2 separate regions of the Homo sapiens genome follow, and region 1 is linked to region 2. Evidence: fine-mapped expression QTL. A gene starts in region 2. The other region holds a variant in brackets. All regions are shown on one strand. Distances are between the middles of the regions.

Region 1 (8,333 bases), 56 kb after region 2:
ATCACGCCACTGCACTCCATCCAGCCTGGGTGACAGTGCGAGACTCTGTCTCAAAAAAAAAAAAAAAAAAAAAAGGAAAGGGTTGCATCTGGGTAAGAAAAGCAAGCTTTCTGACATTTTAATGTACCCTATTCCCACTCCCCCTTTCCCCAGCTCCACAACAGCCTCGGCCACACAATCATGCTGACATCCAGCAGCAGAGCAGCCACCGTAGGGCTCAGAAGGGGATTGGAACTCCTCCAAAGCTTCATTACCAGAGAATTGCCATTTGGCCTTTTTGGTAGTTCCATGTAAGTCCCTACTCCTAGGTCTTGTCTTTATTTGATGTGACTAAGAGGTTACCCAGTGTGAACAACCTTTTCCCTGGGTGCATTTGTCAAAAAAAATCAACAGCAATTGTTGAACATCTCAGCTTCCTAAGGTGGCTGTAACAGTTGGAACAAACAAACTGACCAAAAGACTTAGAAGGAAAAACTGGGAATGAGATTTCTATAGGACGTTTTGAAAAGCTTCAACCTATTCCTAAGAATGCAGAAGGCCACACACATGTGTAGGACTGTGCACATGCCCAGAAGAGACCTGAGAATTCCCCAGCTCTTTCGTCTGACCTTAAGTGTCTGCACAAACAGAGAGGACAGAGGCAGAAGGAGGGAAAGAGGGAGGGAGGAAAGGTAGGAAGGGGAGAAAGAGAGAGGAAGAAAGAGAAAGGAAAGAAAGGCAGGCAGAAAGAAGGAGAAAGGGAGGGAGGGAGGGAAAGGAGGGAGGGAAGAAAAGAGAAAGATTGAGAAAGAAAAAAGAGAAAGAAGAAAGAAAAGAAAAAAGGAAAGAAAGTTAGTTTATAAAATAGAACCAAGTAGAAATTTTAGAGTTGCAAAGTACAAAAATGCAAATGAAAGATTTACTTGAGAAGTTTAAAAAATGTGTGAACTGGTAAAAGAAGTAATCAGCAAATTAGAAGTCATTTGAGATTATCCAGTCTGTGGAACAGAAAAAAAAAATCAGCAAAGAAAAATGATCAGTGCTTCAGACACCCGTCAGACACCATCAAACATACCAACATACACATAATAGGAGTCCTAGAATAGATAAGTGAGAGAGAGGGAAGGGGATAAAACATATACTGGAAGAAATAGTGGCCAAAACCTTTCCCACTTTGAGGAAAAACATTAAAGTGAATCCAAGAAGCTCAACAAATTCTAAGCAGGAAAGACTCAAAGAGTCCACCTCAAGACACACCAGCCACTAAGTAAATAATTTTAAATATATAGTAAAAAATGACAAGGAAACAGAAATGTTACACTAGAAAATATATAAGAAAAGAGAAGGAAGTAATGAAAAATAGAGGAGAAAAAAAAGGCAAGAGGCCTAAAGAAACCAACAGTAAAATGGTAGATAAATCCTGCCTTATCAGTAATTTCATTAAATGCAAATGAATTAAATACTCCAATCAGAAGGTAGAGATTGGCAAATTGATTTTTTTTAAAAATCATGATCCAACTATATGCTATCTACAAAAAACACACTTCATTTTATTTTTATTTTTATTATTTAGAGACAGAGTCTTGCTCTGTTGCCTAGGTTGGAGTCTAGTGGTGTAATGATAGCTCACTGCAGCCTCAAACTTCTGGTTTCAAGTAATCTTCCCACCTTAGCCACCCAAGTAGCTGGAACTATAGGTGCCTGCCACCATACTTGGCTAATTTAAAACAATTTTTTTAGAGATAGGACCTGGCTTACTTCAAAACTTACCTGGCTAATTTCACTTCACATAACGATCTTCAGTTCCATCCATGTTGTTGGAAGTGACAGGATCTCACTCTTTATGGCTGAACAGTACTCCATTGTGTATAAGCAATATATTTTCTTTATCCATTCATCTGCTGATGGACACTTAGGTCGCTTCCAAATCTTGGCTATTGCAAACAAGGCTGCAGTAAACATGGGAGTGCAGATATCTCTCCAAAAAAAATTTTTTTTTTTTTAGAGATAGGGTCGTACTGTGTTTCCCAAGCTGGTCTTGAACTCCCGTCCTCAGGCAATCCTCCTGCCTCAGTCTCCCCTAAGCAGCTGGGATTACAGGCATCAGCCAATGCACCTGGCAAAACACACTTTAGATTCAAAAACACAAACAGGTTGAAAGTAAAATGATGGAAAAAGATATACCATGCAAACAGTAACTCAAAGAGAAGTGGAGTAGCTATACTAATGTTAGACAACATAAACTTTAAGAAAAAAATTGTTTCTATAGACAAAGAAGGACTTTTTTTTAATAGTTCCAACTTTTATTTTAAATTCTGGAGGTACATACACAGGTTTGTTACATGGGTCCTGAGGTTGGGGTACAGATCCCATTACCCAAGTAGTAAGCATAGTACCTAATGGTTAGCTTTCCAATCCTTGCACCCCTCCCTCCCTTCTCCCTCTTGTCATCTTTAGTGTCTCTTGTTGCCATTTTTGTGTCCATGTGTATCTAATGTTTGGCTCCCACTTATGAGACTGTGCAATATTTGGTTTTCTGTTCCTGTGTTATTTCACTTAGGATAATGGCCTCCAGCAGCATCCATGTTACTGCAAAGGACATGATTTCATTCTTTTTTATGGCTGCATAGTATTCCATGGTATATATGTACTATATTTTCTTTATCCAATCCACTGTTGATGGGCACCTAGGTTGATTCCATGTCTTTGCTCTTGTGAATAGCACTGTGATAAACATATAGGTGCATGTGTCTTTCTGGTAGAATGAATTGTTTTCTTTTGGATATATACCCAGTAATGGGAGGCTATGTTGAATGGTAGCTCTGTTTTTGTTTGTTTGTTTGTTTGTTTGGTGGAGTCTCTCTCTGTCACCCAGGCTGGAGTGCAGTGGTGTGATCTGTGCTCACTGCAACCTCCGCCTCCTGGGTTTAAGCGATTCTCCTGCCTCAGCCTCCCAAGTAGCTGGGACTACAGGCGTGTGCCGCCATGCCCAGCTAATTTCTGTATTTTTAGCAGAGACAGGGTTTCACCATGTTGGCTAGGCTGGTCTTGAACTCCTGACCTCAGGTGATCGACCTGCCTCAGCCTCCCAAAGTGCTGGGATTACAGGCATGAGCCACCATGCCCAGCTGCTCTGTTTTAAATTCTTTGAGAAATCTCCAAACTTCTTTCCACAGTGGTTCAACCAATTTACATTCCTGCCAGCAGTGTATAAGCATTCTCTTTTTTTCCTTAGCCTCTTCAGCATCTGTTATTTTTTGACTTTTTAATATAGCTATTCTGACTGGCGTGAGATGATATCTTATTGTGGTTGTGATTTCCATTTCTCTGTTGATTAGTGATGATGAACATTGTCTCATATGTTTCTTGGCCACTTGTATGCCAAGGACATTTTATATTGATAAAAGGGTCAGTCCATTAGGAAAATATGACAATTATAAACATATGTACCTAGCAATACAGCCTAAAGATACATGACATAAAAACTTAGAGAATTGAAGGAAGAAACAGACAATTTAACTACAATAGTTGGAACCCTCAAAACTCCATTTCAATAATAGCTAGAGCAACTAGGCAGAAGATCAACAAGAAAATAGAAAACACTATAAACCAACTAGACTTGACAAATATCTACAAGGCACTCCACCCAACAGCAGCAAAATACACATCCTTCTCAAGTGCACATGGAACATTCTCTGGGGTAGATCACATGCTAGGCCATAAAACAAGTCTCAGTAAATTTAAAAGAATTGAAATTATACTACATATGTTCTCTGACCATGTTGGAATAAAATCAGAAATCAGTAACAAATTTTGTTAATTTCTGTATTAATGAAGAAATATACAAGTAAAGAGGTTGGACTAATAATAATTCTTTTAAAACTTCCCACAGGGAAAAGCCCAGGACCAGATTGTAAGCCAGATGGTAAGGAATTAACACCAATATTTCATAGAGTCTCCTAAAAAATAGAAGAGAAGAAAATACTCCTCAATTGAGAAGAGTGTCCTCAACTTTATGAGGTCACTCTTAATACCCTGATACCAAAACCAGACAAAGATGTCACAAGAAAAGCAAATAGCAGACCAATAATCTCTTGGGAATACAAACGGAAAAAATCTTCAACAAAATACTAGTAAACCAAATCCAGCAACATAGAAAAAGGATTATACATTATGACTAAGTGGGACTTATCCTAAGATTACAAAGTTTGGAATAACTCATGTTCTCTTGTAAGTGGAAGCTAGGCTGAGCACGGTGGCTCACTCCTATAATCTCAGCACTTTTAGGAGGCCAAGGTGGGCAGATCAAATGAGGCCAGGAGTTTGAGTCCAGCCTGGGCAACATGATTAAATCTGGTCTCTATAAAAAATACAAGAATTAGCCAGGCATGGTGGTGCATGCCTGTAATCCCAGCTACTCTGATGGCTGAGGCACAAGAATCGCTTGAACCTGAGAAGAGGAGGTTGCAGTGAGCAGAGATCGCACAACTGCTCTCTGTCCTAGGTGACAGAGCAAGTCCTGTCTCAAAAAAATTAAAAAGTGGGAGCTAAACATTGGGTACACATGGACATAAAGTTGGGAAGAGGCCAGTCGCGGTGGCTCACGCCTGTCATCCCAGCACTTTGGGAGGCCAAGGCGGGCGGATCATGAGGTCCGGAGATCAAGACCATCCTGGCTAATATGGTGAAACCCCGTCTCCACTAAAAATACAAAAAATTAGCCGGGCGTGGTAGCAGGCGCCTGTAATCCCAGCTACTCAGGAGGCTGAAGCAGGGGAATCACTTGAACCTGGAAGGCGGAGGTTGCAGTGAGCCGAGATTGCGCCACTGCACTCCAGCCTGGGTGACAGAGACTCTGTCTAAAAAAAAAAAAAAAAAAAAAAAAGATGGGAACAGCAGACACTGGGGACTACTAGAGCCAGGAGAGAAGGAGGGGAGCAAAGATTGAAAACTACCTATTGGATACTGTGCTCGCTACCTGGGTGACAGGTTCAACCATACCCCAGACCTCAGCATCACCCAATATACCTTTGTAACAAATT[C/T]GCACATGTACCCCCCTGATTCTAAAATAAACGTTGAGAAGGGGAAAAGAAAGAATGCAAGGTTTTTTTAACATACAAAATTTACTTAATATAATATACCACTTTAATAGAAAAAAGAGGACAAAAAGCACATGATCATTTCAATATACACTGAAAAAGCATTTGGCAATACACAACACTCTTTCTTGGAAAAAACCTTTCAACAAACTAGAAATAAATTACTTCCTCAACATGATAAAGAGCATCTTTGGAAAAACCCACAGCCTACATCATATTAATGGTGATGTGAAAGCTCCAGTTGGGAGCTTTCTTCCCAATATCAGGCACAAAACAAGTATATTTATTCTTGTCACTTCAACATTGTATTAAATGTTCTAGACAGAGCAATTCGACAAAAGGAAGGAAAGAAGACTGCGCATTCAGATTGGAAAGGGAGAAGTATGATGATCTCTCTTTGCAGACGACAAGATACCATATAGAAAAAGTCCTAAGAAATCCACTTACGCTGTTAGAACTAATAAAGAGTTTAGCAAGATTGCCAGACACAAGATCAATATACAAAACTCAATGGTATTTCTACATATTACAAACAATTTGAAGTTAAGAAAACAATTCCATTTATATCAACACCAAAAAGAATGAAATACTTAGGAATAAATTTAACAAAAGTTCATTTCTACACCAAATACTACAAAACATCTCTGAAAGAAATTAAAGAACACCTAAATAAATGGAAAGACATCCCATGTTTATGGATTGGGAGATAATTATTGTTAGGATGAAAATAGGCCCCAAATTGATCTACCAATTGAACACAATCCTGATCAAGAATCTCAGCCTTCTTTGCAGAAATTGACAAGCTGGGCCGGGTGTGGTGGCTCACACCTGTAATCCCAGCACTTTGGGCGGCCAAGGCAGATGGATTACTTGAGGTCAGGAATTCAAGACCAGCTTGGCCAACATGGTAAAACCCTGTCTCTATTAAAAATACAAAATTAGCCAGGCATGGTGGTGCATGCCTGTAATCTCAGCTATTTGGGAGGCTGAGGCAGGAGGTAGAGGTTGCAGTGAGCCAAGATCATGCCACTGCACTCCATCCTCAGCAACAAGAGCAAAACTCTGTCTCAAAAAAACAAAAAACAAAAAAAAAAAAAAAAGAGAAAGAAATTGACAAGCTAAGCTGACGCTAAAATCCATATTGAAATACAAAGGATCAAATAAATCTGGAGAAAGAAGAACAAAGTTGGAGGATGTGCACTTCCTGATTTCAAAATTTATTACAAAGCTGTATTAATCAAATCTGTGTAGTTTGTAGACAGATATACAGATAAATGTAGATAGACATACAGATCAAGAGAATAGAACTGAGAGTCAAAAATAAACCCTTGCATCTATAGTGAACTGATTTTCGACAAGGAGGCCAAGACAATTTGATGAGGGAAAGAATAGTCTTTTTAACAAATGGTGTTAGGACAACTGGATATCCACATGCAAAGGAATAAAGTGATATGCCTTTCTCACACCATATACAAAAATTAGCTCAGAATGAGTCAAAGACTTAAATGTAAGAGTTGAAACTACAAAACTCTTAGTAGAAAATATAGGTGAAAATCCCCATGATTGAAAAATATCTAGTATTTGATAGCACAACAGGGTGACTGCAGTCAGCAATAATTTGTTGTACCTTCAAAAATAACTGAGGAAGTACAATTGGAATGTTCATGACAGAAATGATGAATGCTTGAGGTGATGGAAACCCCATCTACCCTCCTGTGATGATTACATCGTATGCCTATATGAAAACATCTCATATACCTCATAAATATGCTAATTATGTACCCATAAATTTTTTTTTAAATCCTCATGACCTTGGATTACACAATGATGTCTTAGATATGATATAAAAAGACAGGCAACAAAAGAAAAAAACTACACTTCAAAATTAAAACGTTTTGCTTCAAAGGACACCAGCAAGAAAGTAAAAACCCACAGAATGGGAGAAAAATATTTGCAAATCATGGATCTGACAAGGACTAGTATAGGCTATATAAAGAACTACAACTACTCAGTTGGCCGGGCGCGCGCGGTGGCTCATGCCTGTAATCCCAGCATTTAGGGAGGCAAGGCGAGAGGATCACTAGAGGCCGGAAGTTCAAGACCAGCCTGTGCAACAGACTCCCGGCTCGAATTTTTTATAAAAAGTGATATAGGAATGAAAAGTACCAGCTGAACTAGGAAAGGGGAAGTTGACAGTAAGGAGGGACTATCAGGGGCAGGAGGATACTGGGTAGTGGTGGTTTAATTCATTGTTTTAATTGTGGTGATGGCTGCATGGTTGTATACATAGGTCAAAACTTAACGCGTACACTTTAAATGTGTGGTTTATTGTATGCCAGTTATAACGCAATATAGCTGTTAAACACAAACACAATAAAGTTGAAAAACCAGCAGGCATTCCCTGATTAATCAGTATTCTGGGGAGGTAAGGGGCTCACAGGAACGCAAAAGAAATTCAGGCTGTAAATCCAGTTGGACGCCCCGCTGCCCCATCCCCTCCATCCGGGACCGCCCGACTCCTCTCCCACCTCCTTCCCCAGGCCTCCCCCAGGCCTCCAGTCCGGAAGATGCGACGAGGTTAGCGGGGCCCGACCACTCCTTGGCTTCCCAGGGGTGAGCCTCGCGAGTTAGGAGTTGGGTAGAGAGTCAGCCCGGGGCCCGGCATCCGCTTTTTCGTTGAAGCAACGACTTTGGCCGGATGACTCCCCAGGGTCGGCATCAGCGTGGGACTGGGAACAGGTGAAGGGAAACAGAAGAGAGCCTGAGAAGACCGCTCTCCTCCGATCCTAATTGACTGAGCCAATGAGAGCCAAAGAGGTCACATGCTCAACTGGGCGGGGAGCGGGTTTCCACCTGCGGCATCTTTCGCGAGCGGGGAGATGAGTGGGGCGGAATATGGGAGAAAGGGAGGGCCCGCCACGCTCTGGCTGGACACGGCCTTAATCGGCCCGTTCACTCGACGTTTTTGGTTCTACGTTGACCCCGAGAAACCGAAACCGCAGGGCCTAGGGCGGGTGGAACGAGAGGGAACTACATTTCCCAGCAGGCTGCGGAAACGGGACTGCGGCCACTACTTCCGGCGTGTACCGAGAGACTGGCGTCCGGCGTGTACCGAGAGACTGGCGTCCGGTGTGCAGGTGGCCACATGGATCCTGGCAGCCGGTGGCGGAACCTGCCCAGCGGGCCTAGCCTAAAGCACTTGACTGACCCCTCTTATGGAATCCCGCGGGAACAGCAAAAGGCAGCGTTGCAGGA
Region 2 (8,333 bases):
TGTTCCAAAAGTTTGCTGAATTTGTTTATTAATTCTATTAATTCTAATTTGTTTATTAATTCTAACATTTCGTGGGTATGTATGTGTGGGTAGTCCTTAAGGGTTTTTTTGGTAGAATTTTCTACATATATGTTATCTGCGAATAGAATCAATCTCTTTAATAGGTGTGAAATTATTCAGATTTTGTATTTCTGTGTCATTTTTGGTAAACTGGATTTTTCAAGGAAGTAGTCTATTTTGTCCACACGTCAAATTCATTTGCAAAAATTGATCATAGGATCTTCTTTCTTTCTTTCTTTTTTTGAGACGGAGTTTCGCTCTTGTTGCTCAGGCTGGAGTGCAGTGGCGCGATCTTGGCTCACGGCAACCTCCGCCTCCCGGGTTCAAGACCGTCTCCTGCCTCAGCCTCCCGAGTAGCTGGGATTACAGGCGTGCGCCACCACGCCCAGCTGATTTTTTGTATTTTTAGTAGAGGCAGGGTTTCTCCATGTTGGTCAAGCCGATCTCAAACTCCCGACCTCTGGTGATCCACCCGCCTCGGCCTCCCAAAGTGCTGGGATGACAGGCGTGAGCCACCGCGCCTGGCCGGATCTTATTGTTTTTAATACCTTCAGGATCTCTAGTGATGTTTCTTTTTTCATTAAAAAATTTGTTTAAAAATATTTTTAAATCTTCTTGCATCTGACCTTTTTCATTTTAACTTTGATTGTTCTTCCTTTCATTTGTTGGTCTTGAATGCTTAACAATTTTAAATTTTTTAAAATATATCCCCTTTGCCTTTGATTTCTTTATTGTACATTTATTTTCTACTTCCTTGATTTCTTCCCTTAGGATTTATTTCCTTTTACTTACTTTGGGTTTTGCTTATTATTCTTTTTCTAGTTTCATGAGATGGAAGCTTAATTGATTTTCAGTCTTCTTTTAAAAACATACGTACTTGGCCCACGCCTGTAATCCCAGCACTTTGGGAGGCCGAGGCGGGCGGATCACGAGGTCAGGAGATCGAGACCATCGTGGCTAACACGGTGAAACCCCGTCTCTACTAAAAAAAAAAAAAAAAAAAAGAATACAAAAAATTAGTCGGGCGTAGTGGCGGGCGCCTGTAGTCCCAGCTACTCGGGAGGCTGAGGCAGGAGAATGGCGTGAACCCGGGAGGCAGAGCTTGCAGTGAGCCGAGATCACACCACTGCACTCCAGCCTGGGCCACAGAGCCAGACTCCGTCTCAAAAACAAAACAAAACAAAAAAAAACACATATGTACTTTAGACTGTAATTTTTTTATTAAAAACAGCTTTAGCTGTATCCTACCAGTTTTGCTATGCCATATCTTTATTCTCATTCAGTTAGAAAATACTTTCTCATATTGTGATTTCTTCACGGATTCATGGGTTATTTAGCAGTGTACAATATCACTTAATCTCCATGCAACTTAATTCCACTATTGTCAGAAAAGTGTTCAGAATTATTTCAATCTTTTGAAATTGCTGGAGTTTACTTTATAATCCAGGGTACTGCCAGTTTTGGCAAATTCCTTACATTCTTTGTTCCAATATTGCTGCTGACTGTACGTACTGTCTCCAGAAGAAGAGGGCACATCCAAATTCTAAGGTCTAAGCTAGGAAGTGATACATATCACCTGCTCACATTCTACTGGCAAGAGTATATTCACATATCCACATTTAATGCTTACTGCTAGGGGCTTAATGCTAGGGTGGAGGCAAAGCTGAATTTTCGGAACAGATTCTCCCCCTATAAGACAGCAAGACAGTGGCAAGCTGTCCCACACAGATAGTGTTCCATCAGATTGGTCTGATTTGGACCAGTTTCCTACGTTTTACCAGTCGCTGTGGCAAAAGGGATAGAGAGTAATCCTGTTGGACCAAGCCTGGATATTCATTTCCTTTATCAATAACAGACACTGTTAATCCCACAAGAGCCACAAAAAATGGGTTCCAAGGGGGTCAGGCGCTGCGGCTCATGCCTGTAATCCCAGCACTTTGGGAGACCAAGGCGGGCAGATCACTTGAGGTCAGGAGTTGGGAGATCAGTCTGGCCAATATGGTGAAACCCTGTCTCTACCAAAAATATAAAAAGTAGCCAGGCATAGTGGCCTGTGCCTGTAGTCCCAGCTACTCAGGAGGGTGAGGCAGGAGAATCTCTTGAAACCCGGAGGTGGAAGTTGCCGTGAGCTGAGATCACGCCATTGCACTCCAGCCTGGGCGACAGTGCAAGACTCCCTAACAGACACACACACACACACACACACACACACACACACACGTTCCAAGGAGGAAAGATGAGTTACCTTACAAAGAAAAGGGAATAAGCTGGGTGTGGTGGCTCACGCCTGTAATCCCAACAGTTTGGGAGGCTGAGGTGGGAGGATGGCTTGAGTTGAGGAGTTCGAGACCAGCCTGGGCAATATGGTGAGACCCTGTCTCAAAAAAAAGTGGGGTGGGGAATAAGTAGTACCGTACAGAACCTACAGCTAAAAGAAACAAAAATGGTGCTCGCTACAAAAAGTGAGAAAAAGGAAAAAGGTAGCTTCTGGATTTGGAAATTCAAAGGTCACTGGTGTTCCTAATGAGATCCACGGTTGTGGAGTGGCAGAGAGAAGCCACCTGTGGCACAGGAGTCGTCAGTAGGAGTCGCAGGAGGAATTGATGCAGCATGGTGGGAGTGGACGTCACTTTCAAGGTGATCAGCCGTGAAGAGCGGCAAACACAGCGTCTTGGCTCGAGTTCCCCCAAACGGTGCCCCCTGGAACAAGAATTTGAGCACGAGTACAGTAGTTTTTTTGGGAGGTGATCCCAGGAAACATCGGTAGTCAGGGAAAGGAAGGAAGCCAACAGAAGATGCCCTGATGAGCAAGTTGCAGCTGTGGACAACCGCAGCCGTGGCCTACAGAGGACCACCGCAATACGCCTAGGACACACGCCTCCCCGCAGGGCACGTGCGGAGGGCGAGAGGGCCAGGGCATTCTCGACCAACTCTATCCCTCGTGGAGGGAGAGCAGCTGGGAAGGAGTGCAAGCACCCAGCACCTCTAAGTCTGCCCCATTTCTGCTCTGAGCGGGCTCTCCACAGCCAGCGGTTGCCTGCAGGTGGAGCCGGTGCGCAAGACAGGCGAGTGAGCGCCTGGCGGCCCCGTGGAATCTGGGCAACGATGGGAAGGAGAAGGGCGCTTTTACAATGTGCTCGGGTAGATACCGTGAGCATCGGGGGACAGGAAGGGGAGAGGCCCCAGGGTGTTCTTTATCTACAGGAGAGTAAAAGATGCAAGGCGCAGGGCTGATGTGGGTAATTTATGAGGGACTGTAGGAAGTTTGGGGGAGCTCTGATGATCATTGCCTTCTCTTTGTATCTCAAATGCAGCAGCACAGTCTTCAGAGTGGGCTATCAGAACCGAAGGGACTTTTAAGAGCCACTCTCCGCCGCTCATAAGGGGAAATCGAGGTCCGGAGAAGGGAAAGCAAGTGGCTGAATGCCGGTAAAAGGCAGGAAAAGAGCGGAGCCCAGGGCTCCAGGGGGTCGGTTTGGGACCTGCTTCCACCAGCAGAGTCTAAGGTCATCCCCTTGGCCGTGCGCCACCCTGGGCTCAGCCGAAGGAAGGAGCACTCGACACAAACAAAACCGACGCTCCGGGTCTCCGTAGTCGTTAAGCAAAGAGGAAGAGGAAGCGCTTCTTCATTAGGCCACAGGACCGGGCCTTAGAACTTTTGGGTTTTATCCATTAAAGGTCCTTTGGCAATAGAAGAAAAACCCAGATCGAGCCCTGCAAACTGGGATCTTCCGCCGGCACCGCCCCCCGGCTGCGACCCGGGGCTCGGAAAGAACCACCCCAGGCCCGGGCTCCGGTTCCACCGCACAGTCCGCCCGCTGCGGTAAAGCCGCGCCCACCGCCGCGGGTCTCCAACCCTGCGCCGCCGCCGCCCCCGGGGGAGGGTACGGAAAGGGCGCGGCGCCGCCGCCCACGGGCTCCTCCAGAGCGCGGCGGGGCCGGGCCGCGCGGAATCACGGGACAGAGGCGGGGCCGCGCCGGCGGGGGCGGGCGTGCGAGCGGCGCTTTCCTCTCCGGCACCCGGCGGGCGCCCGGGCGCGGCGCCGCCGGCACCCGAGAGGCGCGGTAGCCGGCGCGGGCGGCGGGGGCCGGGCCGCGGCGGGCGCCCGGGCGGGGTCCGCGCTGAGCCGCCTTCTCGGCCGCCTGGTCCCTGCGGCGGCTGCCCGGCGGCCCGGGCGCGCGGCGCTTCGCCATGTACACCTTCGTGGTACGCGATGAGAACAGCAGCGTCTACGCCGAGGTCTCCCGGCTGCTCCTCGCCACCGGCCACTGGAAGAGGCTGCGGCGAGACAACCCCAGATTCAACCTGATGCTGGGAGAGAGGAATCGGCTGCCCTTCGGGAGACTGGGTGAGCCCCTCCCCGATTCCCGTCTGCCCTCCTCGGAGCGGCCCTGCGCGCCTCCCGCGGCCCGTTAGAACCGGCGCTTTTGTTTTTAAAGGTCATACATTTTCTCCTCTGTCGCTTGTCGGGCACATCAGAAACGGATTCGGAAAGATCGAAACCTGTCGTTTTTAATGCTTTCTTGTCTCCTAACTTGGATTTAGAGTCGGAGTCGCGGTGCGGCCACTCGGGGCCGCAGCTACCTCCCGACGGTGACCGGTCCCTGCAGCCCGGGAGACGCTGGCCGCCGGGGCTGGGACCTGAGGCGCGAGTCTAGCGGCTCCCCCGGGCCGAAGCCCCCAGATTTGGCGGGTCCGCCGCGCTGGGCGCGGCTCCGCAGAGCGGGCGGCTGGAGTCATCTTTTGCAGCTCGTCTGCACTGAGGATTTCTCCCTGCTTGGCGTGGGCGCGGGCGGGGGAGCCGTAGGTGTTGAAACCCCTGAGGCTTCTGCCCCCCGAAGGCGCGGAGGAGCGATCAGAGGATTTGGAAAAGACCCCCGGATTCCAAAAGCAGGAGCTGCAGAAGAGACCCTAGCCCAGGGAAGTGTGGAGGGATGTCTGATTATAAACCTTTCCTTAGTTTCACCAAATAATGTGTTTTCGCAGTTCTGCATTGGATTAAGATCTTACACGAGGCTGCGTTCGCCCTCCCTGTCTTCCCTGCTCTCCCCGAGGGAATTACCTTCATCCACATGGTTGAAGCTGGCTGGGCACCACCATACCCACATGTCCACGGGTAGGAAAGCGCAGGAGATAGGAGGGGACTAGCGGCTCCTTTGTAAGTGATGTCATCCAGAAGTTGCCCAGATCGGTTCAACTCACATCCTATTGACCTGAGCATAGTCTCATGGCCTCCCTCTCTGCACAGTCATCTGGGAATTGCATCTTCTCTCCGGGGAGCCATGTTCCTTGCCAGAATTCACCAGAGGTGGGGGCCAATTGTATTCCAAAGACAAGGGGAGAATCGATACGGAGGAAGAGTCACCTCTACCTTGGAGGGCAACCCAGAGAGAGCAATGTTCTATGTCCAGGAGAGAAAACAGTTTTTAGAAATAGGTGTGGTCAGAATTCAAATGGGTAAAAACTGAATACGGGCCATTTGGAATTGACTGGTCATTTATGAGCTTCCATAGACAGAGCCTTTGGGAGGGGGCTGTGTAAAACTCAAATCGTTGGAGGAATGAAGAGCTGCAGTGTAAAGTTGCTGGATTTTCTTCTTTTGAATAGTACCTGGGACAACTTTTCATTGGTATACAAGTTTATGATGTAGAATGGTGACTCCATGGAAGGACCCATTTGAACACCCAGAAATCTTAGAATATGGAGACTGTGCCTGGAGGCTCCCTTTGGTTAACCGGTGTCAGGAAGACCCTAGCAAAGAGAATTCATGATCTGAAAGGAGAGGAAGAATTGCTTATAGTTGAGAACAATTATTTGTTCCTTGCATTGTCCACTTCCCCTTCCAGACTTCCTGACTTCCCTCTATATTCTTGGCAGTGCCTAGCTGTGAAAGCTTAGGTGGAATCATAACATTAAAAACAACAAACATGGCTCCGCCCAGGCAGAGGTAGGAGTGACTGGCATTACCCTGGTGCTTAAGCCTAGGAGTGAGAAGCAGAAGCCTCCAGAATTTGAATCCTGAACAGATACCACAAATTCAGGAGATGATCAGTAAACGTTTGAGCTTTTTGTTTGTATGTGTTTTTTTTTTTTTTTGTAGTTTTGTTTTTTGTTTGTCTGTTTGTTTTGCGACAGAGTCTCACTCTGTCGCCCAGGCTGGAGTGCAGTGGTGCAATTTTGGCTCACTGCAACCTCTCCCTCCTGGGTTCAAGCAATTCTCCTGCCTCAGCCTCCCAAGTAGCTGGGATTACAGGCGCGCATCACCATGCCCAGCTAATTTTTTGTATTTTTGGTAGAGACAAGGTTTTGCCGTGTTGGTCAGGCTGGTCTCGAACTCCTGACCTCAGGTGATCCGCCCACTTCGTCCTCCCAAAGTGCTGGGATTACAGGCATGAACCACCGTGCCCGGCCAACATTTGGTTTTTATGGGAAAGAAAACAGCATCCTACAACAAAATTGGTTATATGCCATCACTGTTAAGGGATATTTACCTTTTGCTTAAAGTGTACTACATGAAAGCCAAGGAGAAGATTTATAGAGCTAGGTAAAGGCTCAGGAAGGCAGGTGCCCTGTGGATAAGAATGTAGGCAGTTCAGGTGGGAATCAGGTCTGTCTGCTCAGGGAGACCAGTGAGAGCCAGCTAATGCCTGCCTGAAACTTTTGATTTGACTGTATGCCATTCTCAGAGAAATTATTCTTTCTTCTGGCATTTTCAACTGAAAATTCCTTTGGTCTTACTTTGATTTTGTTACTGGAAATACAGTGTGTTTTATTAAGATTTGAAACAAAACATTTTTTATTTTATTTTATTTTTGAGATGAAGTCTTGCTCTGTCGCCCAGGCTGGAGTGCAGTGGTGGGATCTTGGCTCACTGCAACCTCTGCCTCCCAGGTTCAAGTGATTCTCATGCCTCAGCCTCCCAAGTAGCTAGAATTACCGGTGTGCGCCACCACGCCCAGCTAGTTTTTGTGTTTTTAGTAGAGATGGGGTTTTGCCATGTTGGCCAAGCTGGTCTTGAACTCCTGATCTCAGGTGACTTACCCACCTCAGCCTCCCAGAGTGCTGGGATAACAGGCATGAGCCACTGTGTCTGGCTGAAAACACTTTTTATTTTTAATAAAAATTGTTTTTCTTTGTGTCCTTTCTGCTCTAATTCTATAAAAAAAAGCCACATGTAATAAGAGCTGTTGAAAATGAGTTTCCCCATGGAATGCGGCACAGAAGAAAGCTCTCAGGGCTTCTGATTTTGTAGACATGGCCTCTCCACTACCTTCCTTCACCTAGAAGCTTGCAGAGATAGACTTGCTTGAGACCAGCATCATTCTAGTTCTCCTTCCTTCCTTGGTATGGAAAGCCAGGTTACGGATGTGGAAAGCGTGACTGTTAAAGTAGCCTTATTGTACAGAGTGACAAGTCTATATGTGTTAAGCCAGGAGCGGAATGCAGTGTGCAGTCAGGGAGAGGTGAAATGAAAAAATACCCTCAATACCCTCTACCCTAACAAGAAAAAACAGACAAAGGTAGCAGCAGTTTTGGCAAACCTACGATGTTGATATAATATCCACTGTGGGGAGAATGAAGGTTGCCAGCGGAATACTGAGAGAAAGAGGGTCCCTGGGGACAGAGAAACAAAATTGTTCCATTTTCCATTTTCTAACAGCCAATCCTGAGATGAGAGAGAGAAAAGCTGGGCATGACACAGCTGTCCTCTCTCCTGCTTGCTGTGTCCTGTGTCCCTTCTGAGCCTCCTCTTTCCTTCCTAGGTCACGAGCCCGGGCTGGTACAGTTGGTGAATTACTACAGGGGTGCTGACAAACTGTGTCGCAAAGCTTCTTTAGTGAAGTAAGTGTTAAGACCGCTGTTTTCCATTTTTTACCTAAATGAAGCACTTAGGCAAAAATGTGGGGTTGTTTAAAGGACAAACATACTTTTATTTTAAAAGCCAACAAATATCAGTTCAGAAGCTTCCTCTAAGCCGCTTTGGTTGCGGTCCAAAACATGGTGCTTGATAAAGCCTGTCTGCCTCTGAGGTGAGGCTCCTAGAAGCAGAGCCTGACTCAGGGTCTCCTGTGTAAGTGATTTCCTGGGGTAGGATTCTTAAGAGACAGCCATCGGGAAGCAAGGACAGGGCAGGGCAGGGGGAGAACCAAGTAAAGAGGTGGTTTCAGCTGAAGTCTTGCCTCTCCTGACTCCAAGGAGCACCAGAGTGAATGGCACCTCAGAGTTGTCACATTTTGAGCAAGGACCAGGCCTCTATGCTCCAGTATCAGTC

What was found.
Region 1: its variant is fine-mapped to the expression of TTL in blood mononuclear cells (TOPMed, PIP 0.98).

Annotation. Positions count from the first base shown.
Region 1 is chr2:112,534,272-112,542,604 of GRCh38, forward strand. It overlaps TTL (tubulin tyrosine ligase), which reads left to right. Exons shown (of 7, transcript NM_153712.5): 7 at 1-7,468. POLR1B (RNA polymerase I subunit B) reads left to right here and starts at 8,194. Exons shown (of 15, transcript NM_019014.6): 1 at 8,194-8,333. The coding sequence starts at 8,224. It overlaps LOC105373562 (a long non-coding RNA gene), which reads right to left and starts at 7,941. Exons shown (of 2, transcript NR_136321.1): 1 at 7,932-7,941; 2 at 7,385-7,807. RefSeq lists an enhancer at 8,077-8,226. The variant C/T (reference allele first, on the strand shown) is at 5,022.
Region 2 is chr2:112,478,093-112,486,425 of GRCh38, forward strand. TTL (tubulin tyrosine ligase) reads left to right here and starts at 4,064. Exons shown (of 7, transcript NM_153712.5): 1 at 4,064-4,409; 2 at 7,825-7,903. The coding sequence starts at 4,253. RefSeq lists an enhancer at 3,395-3,464 and silencers at 3,785-4,174, 4,735-4,834.